3 linked regions of the Homo sapiens genome follow. The protein of the gene in region 1 purifies or fractionates together with the protein of each later gene. This does not show direct contact. Each region holds a gene or a part of one and is shown in the gene's direction. Other genes may lie near its edges.

What was found. Proteins that work in one complex are often made in the same cells at the same time.
Region 2: the proteins of CLTA (region 1) and GTSE1 purify together in Homo sapiens (affinity purification with mass spectrometry; 2 studies listed by BioGRID and IntAct, with this or other methods). This does not show direct contact.
Region 3: the proteins of CLTA (region 1) and CLTCL1 purify together in Homo sapiens (co-immunoprecipitation; 3 studies listed by BioGRID and IntAct, with this or other methods). This does not show direct contact.

Annotation. Positions count from the first base shown.
Region 1 is NC_000009.12:36,200,910-36,207,933, forward strand, and holds part of CLTA (clathrin light chain A), read left to right. Parts: intron 1-3,158; coding exon 3,159-3,270; intron 3,271-3,811; exon of another isoform or gene 3,812-7,024. UniProt on the Homo sapiens protein: Clathrin is the major protein of the polyhedral coat of coated pits and vesicles.
Region 2 is NC_000022.11:46,313,849-46,320,872, forward strand, and holds part of GTSE1 (G2 and S phase-expressed protein 1), read left to right. Parts: intron 1-41; coding exon 42-165; intron 166-2,183; coding exon 2,184-2,564; intron 2,565-2,662; exon of another isoform or gene 2,663-4,015; intron 4,016-7,024. UniProt on the Homo sapiens protein: May be involved in p53-induced cell cycle arrest in G2/M phase by interfering with microtubule rearrangements that are required to enter mitosis. Overexpression delays G2/M phase progression.
Region 3 is NC_000022.11:19,218,717-19,225,740, reverse strand, and holds part of CLTCL1 (clathrin heavy chain 2), read left to right. Parts: intron 1-107; coding exon 108-288; intron 289-1,686; coding exon 1,687-1,850; intron 1,851-2,931; coding exon 2,932-3,057; intron 3,058-3,647; coding exon 3,648-3,790; intron 3,791-4,129; coding exon 4,130-4,364; intron 4,365-5,733; coding exon 5,734-5,856; intron 5,857-7,024. UniProt on the Homo sapiens protein: Clathrin is the major protein of the polyhedral coat of coated pits and vesicles. Two different adapter protein complexes link the clathrin lattice either to the plasma membrane or to the trans-Golgi network.

The DNA of each region.
Region 1 (7,024 bases):
CTTGCTTGTTCTTTGTGTCTCTTGAGTATGCTTAGAGGCAAGATTTAGCTGGTCTTAGTACTGCTGTAGTATTTTTCATGTTACAGAACCCAAATTTATCTTTTCTGTTTTACCAAGCTCTAGCAGTTTTTCTTCTCCATGGAGAGAGTCTACTTTGGTGTCTGGAAAGATTTAATTTTTCAATTATGAAATTGGGTACTTGGGGAATACTCTTATGAGCTGTTTTCTTAATTCAAAGTGCTTTTTTTGAGAGAAGTACAACATTTGGCCTTGCATTCCAACTGAATTGAATTCACTTGGTTCATGAACAAGGTGTTCCTTCAATTTCACCTTTTTTCCTTGCAAAAACTGTGAGAAAGCACGCGATGCTAAAAATAGAGAACCGGTGCCAGTGGTTTTCAGCCTAGCTGCTGGCTACATTCTCAAGTAATTTTCTTTTCTCTGACCAGTAACGAGGGTGGCCAGAAGGGAAGGCACCTGTGAATGTGCTTTGCTCTCTAAGGGGACTCTTCCTCTTCATCCTCTGAGGGGAAGAATTCTAAATTAGTATTGCAGTGGCACTAAAGCTGCAAAAGCCAGAAGACCAATTTAAATGTACTATTTTATGCAGTAACCACAGTCTGTTCAGGAGGTCACCATTTTTATTTAATTTCATTTTTCAGAGATAAATTTTATATTTTAGTCCTAATGTATAGTAAATGTTAACATCAAAATACATTGAAAGAAAATACTGTCCAATCAAAAAGGTAATTATTTGGAAGTAATTTCACCATGATTGAAAAGGGGGCCTTACATTTTGAATTAGGTATTGTCACATGGCACTTCCAGCCCACAGCTTCTCATTGCAGCATAGCTAAATCTTGCATTCCACATCTGTACTTCATGCCATGGATAGACACATATTAGATGTTTACTGTAGAGGCTAGGTGGTGTGGCTCAGGTCTGTAATCCCAGCACTTTAGGAGGCTGAGGTGGGAGGATCACTTGAGCTCAGGAGTTCAAGACCAGCCTGGGCACCATAGTGAGACCCTATCTCTACTAAAAAAAAAAAATTAGCTGGGGGTTGTGGTGCACGCTTGTGGTCCCAGCTGCTTAGGAGATTGAGGTGGGAGGATCACTTGAGCCTGGGAGATTGAGGCTGCAGTGAGCTGTGATAGAACTACTGCAGTACAGCCTGGGCTACAGAGCGAGACCCTATCTCAAATAAAACAAAAAAAAGTTTACTGTATATACTTTAGAGTCATCAGTGAAAAATCTGAGAAAATGATTCTTCTGAACGACAGATCACCTTCCGACAAATTAGATACCGAGATGAACGTTCCTACTAACCTGAAACTTGGGGGAGTTTCTAGCTGCTATTAGGCTTTTTCTTATAGTTACACACAGCCTTTTGCAGGTTGTTACTATAAGACCTTTCTTGCAAAGGCCCTAAAAATGCCCAAGAATACTTCATTTTTCATCCCTTCTAGTAGTTACTTGACACCGCTACTGCTATCTACTCTCCTTCTCAAAGACACTAATTACAGTTTGGGCTCTTGGTCTGCACTTTCAAAACTCTGTCCAGATCACTGGTGGTCACGTTTTGTGATTATTTCTAGGCTTGCCTCCCTTTCTGTCCCTCCCTTTGGAGGAAGCATAATGAGGTAAGCAAAGTGTAAGCTTTACAGCCAGATCTGGGTTTGAATCTTGGCTCTGTCACTTACTATAACCTTTAGGAAATTCACTCAAACTTTCTGAGCTTTAGTTTTTCTCACTGCTGAAAATGTGATCAGAGTTTACCTTCTTGGGATTGTTGTAAAGATTGAGTTAGATGTCTATAAAACACCTGCCAGACAGAAGAACTTGTTTAAAGTGAAGTATCAGGTTAACTTCAAGTGTCAGCTGCCTCAGTAGCTATGACATGTATTTCTTTTTTTTTTTTTTCTTTTTTGAGACAGAGTCTCACTTTGTTGCCTAGGCTGGAGTGCAGTGGTGCGATCTCAGCTCACTGCAACCTCTGCCTCCCAGATTCAAGCGATTCTCCTGCCTCAGCCTCCCCAGTAATCCCCAGTAGCTGGGATTATAGGCATGCACCACCACATCCAGCTAATTTTTTGTATTTTTAGTAGAGACGGGATTTTACCATGTTGGCCAGGCTGGTCTCGAACTCCTAACCTCAGATGATCCACCTGCCTCGGCCTCCCAAAGTGTTGGGATTACAGGCGTGAGCCACCACAAGCAGCCGGCATGTATTTCTTTATCTCTCACTATCTACTGATGTATGTCTCTTCAGCTTAGTGTCTTAGAGAAAACCATATTTAGTCCTCAGAAACTTCATGTTTCATGTTTGAGAATCCAATCTAGCAAACCTGCTAGGTATGCATTTTCTTGCTGTCATTTCTAGAACCTTTAGGTTAACTGTTAGCAATGATCCCATACCTCTACCCCCTGCACTTCTCTCCAGTGGAGTTTCTTTTGTAGCTCTGCCCTGGCTCTGCCACAAACACACTGCAGACCAAGTAGGAGTAGATGCTTTGTGGTCCTCTCTAGTGCTAATATTCTGTGTTCTATCATTCTCTGGTTCCTGAATCATCTCTACCTTTGGTAATTGTCCTAATAGCACCCTGCCTCACAGAAGTGCTTCTACCATATTTAGTTATGAGAGTGCCACCTTGTGTTCCACAAAACCATTGTCAAACCTGGAATATGGACTAGTTTGGGAGAAGAGGTAAAAGATTAAGATGAATACCCTACTATGAACTAATATTGGCAGCATTGGTAAAGAATCATCTATAATTGTTTCTCCCCCAATTGGTGCCCAGAAGGCTTTTTTCCTATTAATAATAGAAGTCAGTATTTCCACATACACCCTTCTCTTTTGCTCTGCCCAAAACAAGACAAAACAAAACTAATGACCCACTAAGATGTCAGTGGACTGGGATAAGACCAGGAATAGGACTGTGGGAAAGACCAGGCAGGAATAGAAGCACTGAAATCAGAGTTGGTTGTGCAAACAGAGAAAACAGAAGTTTATCTTCCCCTCTCTACTCTTCTCCCCCAACAGGCACACAGACATGGACCTGCACCCACCACAAGTTCAGCAAGACCAAAATAAACTGATGAACTTCAGTTTGCACTTTGCCTCAATTGTATTGTCTTTCTCTTCTCTCCCTTCAAAGATGCCAATTCTCGGAAGCAAGAAGCAGAGTGGAAAGAAAAGGCAATAAAGGAGCTAGAAGAATGGTATGCAAGACAGGACGAGCAGCTACAGAAAACAAAAGCAAACAACAGGTCAGTCCGTGGTGGTTGTAGCACACTTTGTTTTCCAAAATTGAATCAAATCCATTCTCAGCATCCAGTCTCGGTTTTTGGCTTCTGCCTCCTTTAGTGTGAAATGTCTGCAGTTTTTAAAGAAAGTGCTTGAAACAGGTTGCAAGTCTCTCGGGTCTTGTGAGCATAATTCACCCTATTGTTTAGCCATCCCAATTGTAGTGAGCTTAGCTCTCTGAGAGTTTGGTTAATATGCATAACCTGTAATGGTGTGATTCAGCCAAGGGAAAAGTTACTTTCCATGGAACCCTGAAACGAAAGCTGGGTGTCATGAATACACCCAGATCTAGTTACTTTGGATATGATTATAGACTTGGTCATGTTGAGTCTCCTCAATATAGCCCTGCCCCCTGAAAGCCACTTCATGAAGGGGTCCGTTGGCAGGAATATGTGCTTTGTAATTAGGCAGCCAAGGATGTTCCAACATGATTATTTTAGAATTGAGGGTTCTGTGGGTACTTATTTGTGCCTTAAAAAGTCTTGAATTGACTTCTTAAAAATGTTCTGTTTGAAATAGATTTTATTTAGTTACTGATGGTTAAGGAGTTGTGAGGAGAAAAACGCTTTCATTCTCATATCACTACTCACCAGCAGCTGGGCTTTAATGCCCTACACTTAGAGCCCTTCTTGGAAGCAGCAAAGAGAGGATATGTGGTGTTGCTTCCCTCAGGGCAGGCAGGTTCAGAGCCCAACTTTCACTGAATAGTCAATCCATTCACTTCAGTGTATAAACGGGCCAGACCGAGCCTGGGGATATTTTTAATTTTCAGGGTAGAGCCTTGGGTTCTCGTATGCAGAGGCAGGAAGCAGGTTGGGTTAAGTGCCCTTGTCTCTGGCAGCTCTGTTAGACAGAGATGTGGCAGGAGAGAGAGCTAACGGCTTTGCCAGCCAGCCAGTGCTATTGTGGGTCCAGTATGACAGAGCAGTTGGACTCTCTTTTATATGCTAGCAGCCCTTCAGCTCATTGGATTCCGGCTTGAGCCTGTGTCCTGGTCACTTTCCTCTGGGGGCGGTGTGCTCAAGGAGTGCCTGTCAGGTTCCATGTGGAGTCCACAGGACTCCACAGTCCCAGTCCCACAGGACTGCTCTCTGGTGTGCAGGCTGGGTTGCCAGTGGTGATGGCTTCCATCAGCTACGTGGGGCTGTTGTTGAGCCTGTGGTCAGTAGGTGGTGCTGACAGGTCCAGGCTCCTGTGTCCTCTGCTCCCTCAAGATGATTTTCTCCCAGGTGGAAGTTCAGATCGGTAAAGCCGAGTGGGGACTGTGTGCAAGCACCCTGCGAGCCCTGAGAACTCCCCCAGCCTGCGACCCCAGCATTTAAGTTTAGTCTGAAGTACTGTAGCTGTGCCGACCCTCCCCGCTCTGGGTCTGTGATGCGTCAATAACTTAACACAAGTTTTCAAACTTAGATAATGAATATGTTGGTAACAGCCTTTCTGTTGCAGAAATTTTTTTCAAGGAAGTTTTGCTGAACTGTCAAGAAAGGGATATTCTCTGTATACAGAATCCGTTGTTCTCAGAGGGAGTAATGACACCTGTTTTTTTTTTTTTTTTTTTTTTGAGATGGAGTCTTGCTCTGTTGCCCAGGCTGGAGTGCGGTGGTGCGATCTCGGCTCACTGCAAGCTCCACCTCCTGGATTCACGCCATTCTCCTGCCTCAGCCTCCCGAGTAGCTGGGACTACAGGTGCCCGCCACCATGCCCAGCTAATTTTTTTCTGTTTTTAGTAGAAACAAGGTTTCACTGTGTTAGCCAGGATGGTCTCGATCTCCTGACCTCGTGATCTGCCTTCCTTGGCCTCCCAAAGTGCTGGGATTACAGGCGTGAGCCACCGCGCCTGGCCATGACACCTGTTTTTAGGAGCTCAGTCTTAAAAGTTTAGTCCCTCCAGGCATTGAATTTGGGCCTTGGTACCTTTCTGTACTTGGAACTGTAGAATGCTGGGTAAGCTGGTCTCACAGATGAACCTCTTAAGTTCCAGAGAGAAGGAACTTCCCCACTGCTCACTGAGAATGTAGAGCTGCTTAGGAAGCAGGTCACTTGCCTTGTGGGAACCTTGCAGCACAGGGCTGACTCTTGAGAGCATAACGCTAGTGGCACACTAGCCATTGTCACCAGGGCTCTAGGACAGAAGAGATGGTTTTTACAGTTTATTCCAGTGATTCTTCACTGGTTGGAGGTGGGATCCATTTGAGAGTCACTTTGGGGGACTTCTTCCAAGGGTCTACACCCTCCCCTGGAGATTTTTATATTGCTGACTACTCCCCCTCTCCATCCATGTTTGACTCTAAACTTTAGAGTTCAAAGGAATAGGTCCCATTTAGATGTATAAAGTAATTCATCCTTGTTATCTGTCTATGGGTAAAGAGTGAATATTTTTAGAAAAGAAAATGGGGGCCGGACACCGTGACTCAACATCTGTAATTCCAGCACATTGGGAGGCTGAGGCGGGCAGATCACTTGAGGTCAGGAGTTTGAGACCAGCCTGCCCAACATGGTGAAACCCCATCTCTACTAAAAATGCGAAAATTAACTGGGTGTGGTGGTGTGTGCCTGTAATCCCAGCAACTCGGGAGTCTGAGGCAGGAGAATCACTAGAACCCGGGAGGCAGAGGTTGCAGTGAGCTGAGATTGCGCCACTGCACTCCAGCCTGGGCAACAGAGCGAGACTCAGTCTGAAAAAAAGAAAAGAAAAAAGAAAACGGGGTGCTCATTTCAAGCAAGTATGATTCTCTCTGGGTGACTTCTGCAGTAGCTAGATGTTAAGGGGACCCGAGAGATAAGGCAGAAAGATGAGAAGTTTGAAAGAGGAAAGTCGGAGACAGGAAGGGCATCCAGTTAATTGTGAGAGCATCCTCAGGCCTCCTGCCTTCCAGCTGCCTCACCACTGGGTCACCAAAGCACTAGGAGCACGTCGCGCCTGGCACTGCACTGGGGGTGGGTGTGCTGTACTCTATTGTCAGTCCCCAGACTGCATCTCCCTTCTTTTATCCCAAGTTGAGGCCTAAGTGTCACAGTACAAGAGCTGTGAATTATTCAGTGACAGCCATGGAAAAGAATTTCCTTTTCATAGCCAGCCAGCCAGAGCAGTGACTGACTCCTGCAGCTGGATGAGTTTGCTCATCAAGAACAACCCCAGAACATTTCCCCTATTACAGGTAGCACTTGTGCTTGTCAGCTCTTTCAAGGCTTGAGAAGGTTTGGGGAACCCACAGTTCTCAGAGATGGCAAACATTTTTTTCTGTGCCCACTTTGAGGCTGTTTATGGAATGAAGTTCTGCATTGTATTCGTGCCTCCAGAGCTTGTCCTAGGTCAGGTATTCCTCTTCCCTCCCCTCTCCTAAGCCTCCCTGAGCCCCTTCCTGCCTTGGCTGAGGATTGCTACTTTCAAGTGAAGGACAAATAAGGGGAGGGCCACCTGTGTGTGTGTCTGATTTTCTGTTTGTTCTGGGCCTGCAACCTTGACAGGGGATGTGCTTGTCACTGAGGAGCTCTTTGGTCTTGGGCTAGCTGCAAAGGAGCAAGAGCCTGACATTCAAACTTTTGTTGTCTTAGTGATGATTTGACAGGAGTCATGAAACCTCTACTCTTCTTGTGGAGGGAAACCCAAGTTGAAATCGATCAGGTTTAGTCCTTTGTGTAAACTAAAAGGGTTATGGGTTTATAAGCCAGCCTGCCTTGCCTTTTCCTCCCACTCATTCTGCCCACAAACAACTC
Region 2 (7,024 bases), on another chromosome or scaffold:
CGAGATCTTTGCTGATTCTGTTTTTTCACATTTTGCCCCAGTTGGGGCTGAAGAAGACCCTGTTAAAAGCACCCGGCTCTACCAGCAATCTCGCAAGGAAGTCCTCCTCGGGGCCTGTTTGGAGCGGGGCATCCAGTGCGTGCACATCCCCAGCAGTGGGCAAAGGTGAGGCAGCCGGCATCATGCTTGGACCCACATCTGGCCAGGTGAGGCCTGGAGTGCTGCTCAGGCCTTGGAGACTGTTTCTGCAGAACCACTTAGGCTTGGCAGGACGTCCCGGAGGGCGTGCTGTGTGCGGTGGACCAGGCTGTGGACTGAGTTGCTGTACCTGCCCTCAGTGCCTCTGTCCCATGAGGAGGGCACACTCAGATGGGTGGCTTCAGTCTACGGGGTACACATGGCCAGAAAGCATGTATGATACCCCGTGCCTGAGAACATGGACACTGGAATCACCCTCATGTCCATGTCATGAGACACCAGTTTTAAAATAGGACTATTCCAGATAATGTAGGGCATATGGCCCCATAACTCCTGGGTGCCTGTTTAAATCCATGCTCCCACACCTGTTTGAGGTCAAGCCACATTTCAACCTTGCCAAGCCACAGCTGCCATCTAGTGGTAAGGGAAAGCCTTCGCCTTTCTGCTCTTCAGAGCGAAATCCTCTTCGAGGTGCATTGGCCATGTGGCGTCTCGGGGTCGTTCAGGGCAGCATGGTGTGGATTGTGTTCACAAAATGTAAAAAGTGGGCCGGGCGCAGGGGCTCACGCCTGTGATCCCAGCACTTTGGCAGGCCAAGATGGGTGGATCGCTTGACCCCTGGAGTTTGAGACCAGCCTGGCCAACATGGTGAAACCCTGTCTCTACTAAAAACACAAAAACTAGCCGGGCATGGTGGCGGGTGCCTGTAGTCCCAGCTACTCGGGAGACTGGGCCACGAGAATGGCTTGAACGCGGGAGGCAGAGGTTACCATGAGCCGAGATTGCATCACTGCACTCCGTCTCAAAAAAAAAAAAAAAAATGATAAGTGTGAACTCTCTAATCAGATTGATCTGATCTGGAATTCTGACTCTGCCATTCTGTGATTAAGAGAGGTTTGTGTCCTTATCTTTATAGACTGAGGTGATGACCTCCTGAGATCAAGCAATCCTCCCACCTCAGCCTCCTGAGTAGCTGGGACTACAGGCACATGCCACCACACCCGGCTAATTTTTGTGGGTTTTTTTTTTTTGAGATGGAGTCTCACTCTATTGCCAGGTTGGAGTGCAGTGGCGCAATCTTGGCTCACTACAACCTCTGCCTCCCGGGTTCGAGTGATTCTCCTGCCTCAGCCTCCCAAGTAGCTGGGACTACAGGCACCTGCCACCACGCCCGGCTAATTTTTGTATTTTTAGTAGTGACGGGGTTTCACCATGTTGGCTAGGATGGTCTCGATCTCTTGACCTCGTGATCCGCCCGCCTTGGCCTCCCAAAGTGCTAGGATTACAGGCACGAGCCACTGCGCCTGGCCCACATTTTTGTGTTTTTTGTAGAGAGGATGGTCTCACTATATTAGCCAGGCTGGTCTCGAACTCCTGGCCTTGAGTGATCTCTTGCCTTGGCCTCCCAAAGTGTTTGGATTACAGGCGTGAGCCACCACTCCTGGGCTAAAGTTTTTCTTTAAGAATCCTTTACCAGATCGTCTGCGTATATTGGTAGCTCAGTATGTATTACCCTAGTTTATCTGGTCTTCTATTTTAAATAGTGCTTATGGTTAATATGACGCAGCCTCCTTGTAATTTTAAAGGAATCAACCAGTAACAATTGCGTCTTTTTTCCTTGTTCCCTGCCCACCTCTGTGACCAGACAGGTGAGACATGTGACTAGACTATCCCCTTCCATCTGCTCAACTAATGTAGATTTCTCCTGCCAACATAATCAACGAAGATAGGAGAGCTTGAATTTATGCATGCTTATGTACATGTTAGTAATTATTTTGAGAATAAGTACCTTAGAATACACTCAGCTAAGCTAAAAGCTGCCTGAGCCATCCTGTGTTTGATGATGTTGCCTGAAGGGCTTATAGAATATTGTTAATGTGTCTTATGTTTAAGGTAGATATGCTAAAGACAGCATAACTTCTGTGTGTTTGTTAAATAGCTTCATACTTTTATAATAATGTGATTTTTGTGTGTATACCTTCTAGCTAAATCAAGTGAATTTGCAAGTATTCCTGCAAATAGCTCCCGGCCTCTGTCAAACATCAGCAAGTCAGGCAGAATGGGACCCGCCATGCTGCGGCCAGCTCTGCCTGCAGGCCCTGTGGGGGCATCCTCCTGGCAGGCCAAGCGGGTCGATGTTTCTGAGCTGGCAGCGGAGCAGCTCACGGCACCCCCCTCAGCATCCCCCACCCAACCCCAGACTCCGGAAGGTGGCGGCCAGTGGCTGAACTCCAGTTGCGCTTGGTCAGAATCTTCTCAATTGAATAAGACTAGAAGTATCAGACGGCGAGATTCCTGTCTAAATTCCAAGACAAAGGTTATGCCTACTCCTACAAATCAATTTAAAATTCCTAAGTTTTCTATTGGTGAGTAATAGATACATTTTAATGTGTCTTTAAAAAATACTGAAGAAATTGCATTTAAAGTTTTAAACAATTATTGATGGCATTGATGGTGTTTTTAGTTCTTTCCTCCAACAGTGCTTTCAGGTGTGACCCGCTGTCTTCTCGCCCACGTTGTTTTGGGGGGTCACTGGAGGCTCCCTGAATGTCTTACGTTCGTTCCTGTGTGTGTGACACCCCAATGCTCGTAGGCTGCTTGTAAGGTTTTCTCTTTAGTGTTACTGTCGGGAATTTGATTATTATGTGCTTTGAGGTGGCTTTCTTTGCCTTTATCCCGCTGAGGGTTTCTTAAGCTTCTTTGATCTGTGGGTTGGTTTTTTTCAGCAAATTTGGAAAACGTTGGCCATTATTTCTTCAGCTATCTTTTCCTCTTTCCACTTTATTTCCTAGGACTCTAATCACATCTATTTCAGGCCTCTTGACGTTGTCTCACAGGACACCGAAGCTCTGTTCTTTTTTTTATTTCAGCCTTTTTTCTTTTTCTTATCTTTTTTCTTTTCTTTCTTTCTTTTTTTTTGTTTTTTGTTTTTTGAGACGGAGTCTCGCTCTGTCACCCAGGGTGGAATGCAGTGGCGCGATCTCAGCGCACTGTAACCTCCACCTACCGAGTTCAAGCAATTCTCCTGCCTCAGCCTCCCGAGTAGCTGGGATTACAGGTGCCCACCACCACACCCGGCTAATTTTTTTTTTGTATTTTTGGTAGAGACGGGGTTTCGCCATGTTGGCCAGGCTGGTCTGGAACTCCTGACCTCAAGTGACCCACCCATCTCGGCCTCTCAAACTGCTGGGATTATAGGTGTGAGCCACCGTGCCCGGCCCAGCCTTTTTCCTTGAGCTACAGTTTGGGTAGTTTCTGTTGTCAGATATCATTTCTTCTGCAGTGCCTAACAGCTGTGAAGCCCATCCAGTTAACTTTGTTTCTAACATAATAGTTTCCCCTTATTTCTTCTCATGGTACTTGGGTTTTCTTTTACATCCTCGTGAGCAAATTGATAATGGTTTTAGGGTCTACGATTCTTCTCATACCATCTTCCCCATCATTTTGGGGTCTGTTTCGACTGACTAATTTTGTTTCCGGGTTTTGGCCTCATTTTCCTGCCTCTACATTTTTCACAAGTTTTTCTTGGTTGTTGGATATTGTCAGGTGTACACTTTTGAATGTCTGGATTTTGTTGTCTTTCTCTGAGGAGTTGGGTTGGGCTTGGCAGGCAGTTAAGGTGCAGATCATCCTTCCGAGGCTTTTTATGCTTTGAAGTGGTGGGTCTAGCATAGCCTTTCCGCCTCCCGCCACCGGCGTCCTTCCCAAGGCCTCTGCTGCACACCCGTGTGTCCCGCAAGGCCCGCGAGACCCCTGCACTCCTGCTGCTGCAAGATGACACCTTCTCGGCCCTGTGAGCTCCGCTCGTTGCTCCCTGGTAAGACGGCGGTTTCTCGGCCCTGTGAGCTCCGCTCGTTGCTCCCTGGTAGTTGCTCTTCTCTTGACCTTGAGGACTCCTGCCCTGCACCTGTGCACTGCCTGGTGCTCAGCCAGAGACTCGAGATTCCCTTGGGTTCCTAGAGCTCGTTCTGTCGGAGTAGCCCCCTCCTCTCTAGTTTCTGGCCCTCAGATTGCAGCCACCTCAGCCTCCTGAGCTCCAGCCACTGCCTTCTCCAGTCAGTGAGGCCACTGGCCCCAGCAGGTGTCTGGCCATTAGTGGGTGGGTGTTTGTAAAGTTTTCATGAATTTCTTGAACAATTGTGTGCAATGCAGAAAGTTCTCAGAGCTGACTTAAGGTGAGAGGAGCGTCCTGGCCTCCTCTGTCAGGCAGATCTGCCCTCTGGGTGCTTGAGGATTTTAAGTTCTGGCAGTGCCGGCCAGCACAGGCAGCCTGCAACTCCCAGAAACTGCATTCTGAGTCCTGCTGTAGGAACAAGCTGTTCTGCTGAGTGTCTTCTCTGTGCTGGAATGCTTTGGGGGACAAGGGACATCATGATAAGACAGACCTACTCTCACAGAATTTCTGTTTAATAGGAAAAGATACGAAATGTTATCAGATGAGCAGGCCTGCAGATCCTAGCACAACAAAGGGACTAAGGGAAGATGGTGTCCTGGAGCTGGCATGTTTGGGGAGGAATTTGCATCGGGTGGTTCTTTGGCAAAGATGGTCAGGAGGTGACACGGGACTGAGATCTGAACCAGGAGACTGAGGCAGCCGGTAGGAAAGTGCAAGGGGGAGCACTCCAGGCAGAGGCAACGGCAGGAGTGCAGAGGTCCTGGGGCAGGAAGGCGTGGGACGTGCTCTGGGAGCAGCATGGGGGCCGGAGGGTGGGAGTGCAGCCGCTGCGGTCGGGATTCTGCGTAGACGTGCGACAGCTGGTCAGTACTCCTTGGTGTCAGGGACCCAGGCTTACTCCATCCTGTGCTGCCGTGATGAGCTTCTCATCCTCATGGTCTAGTGTGGCTGCACCGGCTCTGGCCCTCATACCTCCCGGCAGGAAGCCTTCTTCTAGGTGAAGAAGAGCAAATCCCCACCTTTCAAGGACCCTCACTGCAAGTTGTCCCTGTGACTCCGTTTGTGTCCCATTGAGTACGACGCTTCCCTGCACAGGATGCTAGGACACGTTGTCTTTATTCCGCACACAGCTGAAATTTCTTACTGAGAAGAGGAAAGTTGCTGTTGAACAAAAACTAGCAACCTCAGCCAGTCAGTGACCGAGGGGCAGGGTAAGAAGAGATGAAGATGGAGGGGCAGCCCGAGGCCGGCTCCCAGAGCGCCGCGTGACCAGAGCGGACCCTGGAGTACCGTCAGTGCAGGAGGACGTGCATAGGAGAGATCAGAGCAGAGCGACTTGACCTTCAGAAGGTCCCTCCACAGAGGGAAGAGCAGAGTCTCTGGGCCGAAGAGTGGTGGGGAGGGTAATGCGGACCTGGCCCTCACTGTGTTGGGGAGGAAGCTAGTGCTGGGGAAGGAGGCTGGAGCGCTGCGGTCTGCCTGACGTTCTGGTAGCTTAGGGCTCATGTGGCAGTGCAGAGAGGGACTCGAGTGTCCCTGAGGTTCTGGCGGAACCTGGGTGCTGCCACTCATGTGACAGGAGGGCTGGAAGAGGCAGCGGGCAGAGTCCACGGCCCCATTTTGGAAGTAGTGAGGGTGAGAGGCCACTTAGGCTGCAGCTGAGGGGTGGAGCAGGCTGAGAGCTCAGAGGAGAAGCCACAGCTGGAGACCTCAGTGTAGGTTTCAACAGCAGAGAGCTGAGTTTGTAGAGATGGGAGCTGTGAGCTGGGCACGGTGGCTAACTCCTGTAATCCTAGCACTTTGGGAGGCCGAGGTGAGCAGATCACCTGAGGTCAGGAGTTCGAGAGCAGCCTGGTCAACATGGTGAAACCCTGTCTCTACTAAAAATAGAAAAATTAGCCAGGCATGGTGGCGCATGCCTGTAATCCCAGCTACTTGGGAAGCTGAGGCAGGAGAATCACTTGAGCCAGGAGGCAGAGGTTGTAGTGAGCCGAGATGGTGTCACTGCACTCCAGCCTGGGCGACAGAACGAGACTGTCTCAAAAAAAAAAAAAAGAAAGAAAGAAAGAAAAGAAATGCGAGCTGTGATTGGGTGGGTTCTGCAGGGACACCCTACGGCCCAGGTCATGTGGAGGTGTGTTCAGTAGTGTTTGCTTCCCTTCTGCCTGAATGCCTGGAGCCAGGACATGCGTCTGCCATGTCTCTCCTGACCACGTTGGCACAAGTGTTGGCTGGTCTCCTGGCTGTCGGGCTGCTTGATGCCACAGGACTTCTGCTAATCCCAAATCCCTGTTGGCTTTGCCCTGTTTCCCAGAGCGTGTCCCTGCGGTCTCCTTACGCACCTCTCAGATGTGCATTTCACCTTCGGCAGGCGGTTCCTCCTCTCTCCACAATGCTGGGAACAGGACTGTCTCTTGCACGCCTTTGGTCATTCATCAGGGTCAAAACTGGTCCCACAAACTCAGCACTGGCCGGAAGAGAGGCCCCAGGGGAGCAGCCACGCTGTTGGGAACACACAGCTCTGGGAGGCACGTGGTGGTGTGCACTTTTTGGCTGAGAGCACTGGTGGTGTTGCTCATTGGCTGTGACACCAGCTGTCACCGTGGAGGAGAGGTGAGGGCTGAGGGCACTCACAGCGTGGGACCACATGAACGGTGCCCTGTAGTGGAGGCTTTCATATGTGCACTTTCTCAAAATACTCGAGGCAAGCAGCATTCTTTGTAAAACAGTCCAGTTACAAATGTTGCTATTTACTATGAGTCCATGCTGCCGGGTCACCCAGAGGATTGAGACTTGGAATTCTGGCTGTGGGCTTTGCCTCCCCGGTACTGGGAGCTGCAGTGGAGACGCGCCGTCCAGGTTTAGGGAAGAGCTGATGTGGGCCTGGGAGGCGTGCGTGCTCAGGCAGCCCTAGGGCAGTCGTGAGGGTGT
Region 3 (7,024 bases), on another chromosome or scaffold:
TGTATTTTTGACACTCAGGGGAACAGGAGAATGACCTAGTTATTTTCCAAGTGTTAGCAATCTTTAGAGTGGTGCATCGTTGTGGACAGACTCTTCCTTGTTCCCAGTGGCTTGTCAATTTCTTTGGCTCCTTATCGGTGGAGGATTCTGTGGAGTGTCTGCATGCCATGCTGTCTGCTAACATCAGACAGAACCTTCAGCTGTGTGTGCAGGTGGCCTCTAAGTACCACGAGCAGCTGGGCACGCAGGCCCTGGTGGAGCTCTTTGAATCCTTCAAGAGTTACAAAGGTAAACCATGCAGCCTCTCGCCGACCCCACCATGTGACTACACCTCCTTTCTCAGGTGTTGCTGCCTACCTGCCCGCCTTAAGACGGCCTTCCTGCAAAGCCAGGCAGGATGCAGCACTGGCTGCCTTGGGTGCTCAGTCGGTGGCAGAATGCTACTGCCATCTCATGTGCACCCTCAGCTTCAGTAACCTTTTTGGTATTTCCAAAGGAAGAAATCAGGTTGGTTGGTGATGGGATGGAGAAACTTATGGAGCCCGGTGTGTCTACGCAGCACAGTCTGGCAAGAATTCATCTAAAAGCCTGTGTCGTGGGTACAGTGAAAGGGCCTGATGTCTGGTCTTTACAGCCCCAGGAGGGAGGCTCTTTGGGCCTCTCCTAAATGAGAGCCCACGATAGAGGGTGCATTGCTTTGTGGTGTCTGCTACCCAGTTGATTGTGGGGGGCTGACAAGGTAACCTGGTTGTCTTCCTTTCCCCTTCTTGGACATCACACCAAAAAAGTGTTCTAGGGCAGTTGGGATGGGAGTGGCTTTGTTAGGGACAGATGGGGGCTGTCTGGCCCACCCAGGATAGAGACTAAGCATTTGTCTAGGCATCAAGCCACTGCCATGTGTCCAGTGAGGTTGGGGCATCGGTGGAGGGTGGGACATGACCCTGTCCTCAGGGAACTGGCCTTCTCTTTAGAAGACACCCCTGTAGGAAAGACCATGGCAGACGATTGAGTGGAGCTGGGCTGGGAGAGGGCAGTAGAGTAGGTTGGTGGAGAACCGTCAGCCCAGGGGCTGCCCATTCCCTTCCTAGCATCAGGGTCTCACAGTTACAGTGAAAGACCTCGACAGGGAGGGGCCTTCTCAGATGTGTCGTACCCTGTTGTTACTGGTGCCTCCTGGCTGGCCTCTGTAATGATGAGGAACATCATTAGCCTCTGTGAATGCTGTCCTCTGGGGCTCACCCTGGGGCTCAGCATGTGGTGCCCATGTCACTGTCAGCTCTGTGTTGAGTTGCAGGCCTCCTCCTGGAGGCCATGGCTTATTTCTCTGTCCCTTGATGTGTCTTTTTAGAGAAGCAGTCCCACCACCATTTCAGATTACCTCAGTGGGAATTACTCTTGATGACGACTATCTAGGTATACCTGGGCCCACAAAAGGAATTTCACTTGTACCAAATATCTAGTATTTTACATCAAAACATGCCAGGTATACCTGCCAAATATAATGGAAATCCGACTAGCTATTTTTGGGAGCTGCCAAAACAGACAAATGGCATATTGATTATGAGTTCTGAGTGTGCTGTGGGTCCCTGGAGAGTGGAGCAGGGTCATCGAGGGAAGGTGGGCAGCAGCTACGGAGGAGACAGGCAGGTGTTACAAGGACAAAAATGGAATGGTCTCTCTTCATAGGCCTCTTCTACTTCCTGGGCTCAATCGTGAACTTCAGCCAAGACCCAGATGTGCATCTGAAATACATTCAGGCTGCCTGTAAGACAGGGCAGATCAAGGAGGTGGAGAGGATATGCCGAGAGAGCAGCTGCTACAACCCAGAGCGTGTGAAGAACTTCCTGAAGGTGTGTTCCAGTGCTGCCTCCTTCCATGAGCTGCCCTTGCTGATGGCAGGTGGGGCAGACCATCCGCAGGACGTCCCAGGGGCAGGAAGCTGGATCTGTCTCGCCAGGGACCCCTTAGTCCCAGGGACAGAGCTCCACTTTATGGCTTAAAGTTCTAAAGTAACCCTTCTATCGTTTTAAGAGTGTGGAAAGCAGCTTGAGGCTGTGCTCTAAGTATCTGGCACTTATTGCTGCATTGTAATTCATCAACATCCCATTAGTGCCATTGTCAATTAGGCAGGCAAAGCTGCAGAAACAAGTAGACCACTCAGCACTAGTGTCATAAAGAACAGGAAGCCTACTTCCTTATGTGGCAGTCCAGGGTAGGCTGGAGGTCAGTGGGGTGACTTTCCTTCCCACTGTACTTCAAGGACCAGCTTCATGGCTGCTTTGCCGTGTTCAGCACCTCACCTGGATGTCGTCTTCCCAGTCAGCTAGAGGAAGGGAAGAGCACAGAGGAACCAGCATAGGTGGTTTTTATGGGCGAGGCCTGCAAGTGGCAGATGACACTTGGATTCACGTTCCATTGGAGGAAATGAGGTCATGTGGCCACACTTAAAACTTCAAAATGTGATCTAGGCACGGGACCACATGAGGGGAGGCATGATTGTGGTGGCCTGTGGCTGTCCTACCCAAGTGCCATCATCATCTGGGAATGGTGGCCGGGTGTGTTTCCATGGCCTGCGGCTGCGTGTCTGAAAAGGCAGCCCTTACCGCAGGTGTGCTGTTCTTGAGAATGGCCTGGTTTCTGTTGGGTTTGCACATAATGAGCTGCTTGTCTTAAAAGATATTTTTGTCCAGATTTGGAATGTTAATGCCAAATGTAGCAGTCTTTAACCAAATACTAATATCTTTCTCTCACTTATTTCCCAAAGCAAATGCCATACCACAAAACGACAGCCTATTTAGAGCAGTCTCATTCTGAGTCTCCTGTGTGTCACTCTGCTGCAGAGACAGAGCCGTCCCATGTGTGCAATGAGTCCGAGGTCTGGCTGTCTGGTTTCTCCACTCCCTGACTTGTTCTGTGCATTCTAATCCTCAGGAGGCCAAGCTCACAGACCAGCTTCCCCTCATCATCGTGTGTGATCGTTTTGGCTTTGTCCATGACCTTGTCCTATATTTATACCGCAACAACCTGCAGAGGTACATTGAGATCTACGTGCAGAAGGTACTGCTGGCTCCCTGGAGTGACACCCGGCTGCCTCTGGGCCCCAGTCAGTGGCAGTCTTCCCCTCAGAGGCTGCCTGTAACACCTGACATTTCAGAGACTATCATTTTGAAGGGTGGTGGGTTCGTGTGCTCAGACTGCCAGAGTAGAAGACCACAGTCCAGGCAGCTGAAACAACACACATTTATTTCTCACAGTTTTGGAAGCTGGAAGTCCATGATCAGGGTGTCGGCAGGGCTGGTTTCTGGTGAAGGCTGTCTCCCACGCTTGCAGACAGCCTCCTGGCTGTGCCCTCACAGGGCCTTTCCTCTGTGCATGTGCACTCCTGGTGTCTCTTCCTCTTCTTAGAAGGACACTAGTCCCATTACATTAGGGCCCCACCCTTGACATTGATTACCTTCTTAAACACCCTCTTTCCAAGTAGAATCCCACTAGGGGTTAGGACATCAGCAGGTGAATTTTGGTGGGACACAGCGCAGTGCTAAACAGGAGCCCTTTCAGGGTTTTGCCCAAACTGTCCACGTCGTAGGAGGCTTCTAACAATAACTTGTGTTTGCAACACTGAAGTTACTTGACCTTGACTACCCTAGGTCAACCCTAGCCGGACCCCAGCTGTGATTGGAGGGCTGCTTGATGTGGATTGTTCTGAGGAAGTGATTAAACACTTAATCATGGCAGTGAGAGGACAGTTCTCTACTGATGAGTTGGTGGCTGAAGTAGAAAAAAGAAATAGGTAAGGTGTCCTTACTTGGTGTTTTCTCTTACCCCTGGATTCTAGTGTCTGTTGTTGTTTCTGTCTAATTCTCCAGGACTGTCTCTATAGCTGGTCGTTCATGTACACATCTTAGATGTAGCAATGAGTTACTTGCTATTGGTACTGTGAAGACCTTGGGGGAAAACCTAACAGTAGAAATCAGTTTGGAAACCAGGTCCATCTTGGTCCCTAGAGCAACCTGAAGTCAATGGACTCTGAGATTTTTTGTTTCAGGAAACATCTGTCAGAGCCCTGGAGTTGCCCTCAAGACTTCCAGTGGTAGCCTTGAGACTTTACAGCACCTTCCTTCTTTCAAAGGCTCAAGCTGCTGCTTCCCTGGCTGGAGTCCCAGATTCAGGAAGGCTGTGAGGAGCCTGCCACTCACAATGCACTGGCTAAAATCTACATCGACAGCAACAACAGCCCCGAGTGCTTCCTGAGAGAGAATGCCTACTATGACAGCAGCGTGGTGGGCCGCTACTGTGAGAAGCGAGACCCCCATCTGGCCTGTGTTGCCTATGAGCGGGGGCAGTGTGACCTTGAGCTCATCAAGGTGGGTAGCAGATGTGCTGAGCTGCCCATGTAACCCTGGGCTCCCAGGGAAGCTTTCAAAGGTGTGCCTGTGGGGAGCTGATCAGGGCTTTCTGTGCACCTGGAGATGGCAGGTCATGAGATTATTTCCTTGTGATTCTCACAGCTTTTGGGAACTTGCTCATGCAATTTGTATGCATTGTACCTGTAGACCAGTTGGTCCTGAACCTGACTTATCATCCCTCTGCTTACAGTCCTTACTATTGCCTGGCAATTTGAGGGCAGAATTGAACTCCTTGGCCTGACTCGTGAGCTCCTCTGTGGACTGCCACCTTTCCCAACTCCCGAACTTGATCAGCCATCCATCTTGCCACCCCACCTGGAGAGGCCTGCAATTCCCTGGGTGCCTCATGTCCCGAGTACCCTTGTACTTCATGCCCCCTTTTTGGGGTAACCCTCTACACAAGCCCTTCCCCATCACCTGACCAATGAGCTCTTGCTGGCCTCTCCTTGAGACATCTGCCCAGGTCTTTTGCCTGCATCTGCCCAGGCTTGGATCCACATATAATTACATGTTTAGGTTGAATTGTATGAACTGTTCCTACCTAATCATTTGATCTAAAAATCCAGACATGAATAGGGCACCTGTGAGGTTGGTGCCACACCAGCCTGCTTGGGCTTTTCCTGTGATACACAGGCGGACTGCGCTGCATCCGCAAGCACGTGTGCACGCCGCTCAGCCTTGTGCCGGGCATCTGGCACTCAACAGATCTGATCCTCACCAGGATTTAGCAAGTGCTGCACACGCTAGAACATTCCAGTGGACTGTTGGTGTTTTGGAGATCTGTTATAACATTCAGAAAAAGGTCTCCAGATCTACCAGTGAAAGCACAGTTTACAGTTTTTAGATCTTGAAACATTGCAGTGTTTGTGCTGTTTTATACCAGTTCTAGGCTGTTCTGATAACATTTTACAGATGGTTTAAAGCTAGCTACATATGAGTACTTAAATTTAACTAAATTAAAAATTACCAGTTTAGTTCCTGTCACGCACCACATTTCAAGGGCTCAGTAGCCTCCCATGGCTAGTGGCTGTATCAGACAGAATGGGAGACAGAGCATGTCCCTGAATGCAGGAAGTCCTACTGGCCAGATATGTGGCACATCCCTGGGAGTTGTTGTAAACTTGGAAAGGGCATTTTGAGGTAGTTTGAGTCCATCGTTAACCCTGTAGGATGCTGCTCATCCCATGTCAAAGCATAGCGTCTTGCCTGGGCCCTGACTGTCCACCAAACCAGTATCAGGCACACAGGGAACGAATTGGGGTGTGTCCTCCCAAGCAGCTTCCGCTGGTTGGCTGCTGTGTCACACACATGAGTGTGCTCATTTCAGGTGTGCAATGAGAATTCTCTGTTCAAAAGCGAGGCCCGCTACCTGGTATGCAGAAAGGATCCGGAGCTCTGGGCTCACGTCCTTGAGGAGACCAACCCATCCAGGAGACAGCTAATTGACCAGGTGAGGCACAGAGATGGGTATGTCTGCACACCTGCATTTTGCCGTCCGATCATCATTGTGGCTCAAGTGACTGGTTTCATTTTTAATTTAAAACATCTTGGCTGAGGGCAGTGGCTCACGCCTGTAATGCCAGCAATTTGGGAGGCGGAGGTGGGTGGATCACTTGAGGTCTCAGGAATTCAAGACCAGCCTGGCCAACGTGGTGAAACCCCATCTCCACTAAAAATACAAAAATTAGCCGCACATGGTGGCACACGCCTGTAATCCCAGCTACTTGGGAGGCTGAGGCAGGAGAATTGCTTGAACCCAGGGGGTGGAGGTTGCAGTGAGCCGACATCGTGCCACTGCACTCCAGCCTGGGCGACAGACAGAGACTCCATCTCAAAAAAATAAATAAATAGGCCAGGCATGGTGGCTCACGCCTGTAATCCTAGCACTTTGGGAGGCCGAGGCGGGTGGATGACTTGAGGTCAGGAGTTCAAGTCCAGCCTGGCCAACATAGTGAAACCCCATCTCTACTAAAAATACGAAAACACACTGTGTGGCGCATGCTTGTAATCCCAGCTACTCAGGAGGCTGAAGCAGGAGAATCGCTTGAACCCAGGAGGTGGAGGTTGCAGAAAGCCGAGACTGCACGCCACTGCACTCCAGCCTGGGCAACTGGGTGAGACTCTGTCTCAAAAAAATTAAATAAATAAATAAATAAATAAATAAATAAATAAATAAAACATCTTAGTCCTTACGAACCTTCTCCCCTGCAGAAATAGCTTGCCTAAAAATAGCTTGATTCCCCAGGGTAAGCTGACTTGGAACTGTTAACTGGCCAAGGGCATAGAGTTGGCCCTTGGATCCAAAGCAGGGATATGCAGCCCAGGAAGAGAGTACCTGGTGTCATGCCTGCATGCTGGGCCCAGCTCAGCCCTCGTGGACAGAGGTGAAGTAGCTTTCAAGGTTGTCTCAGCTGACTTCCCTTTGTTGAGGTGCTCTTTATGCCCCTGTGACTATCCAGCACCTCCTTGGAGACTGGGCAGAGTGCTGGGGCCAGGGGTCATTATTGGGTATGGCCTGGCAGGTGGGAGTCTGCCTCGGCCTCTGGGAGGGCTTCCCACAGCCCTGTGGAAGAGCCTCCTCTCCAGTTATAGCCTCACAGACATTTGCAGATAGTGCC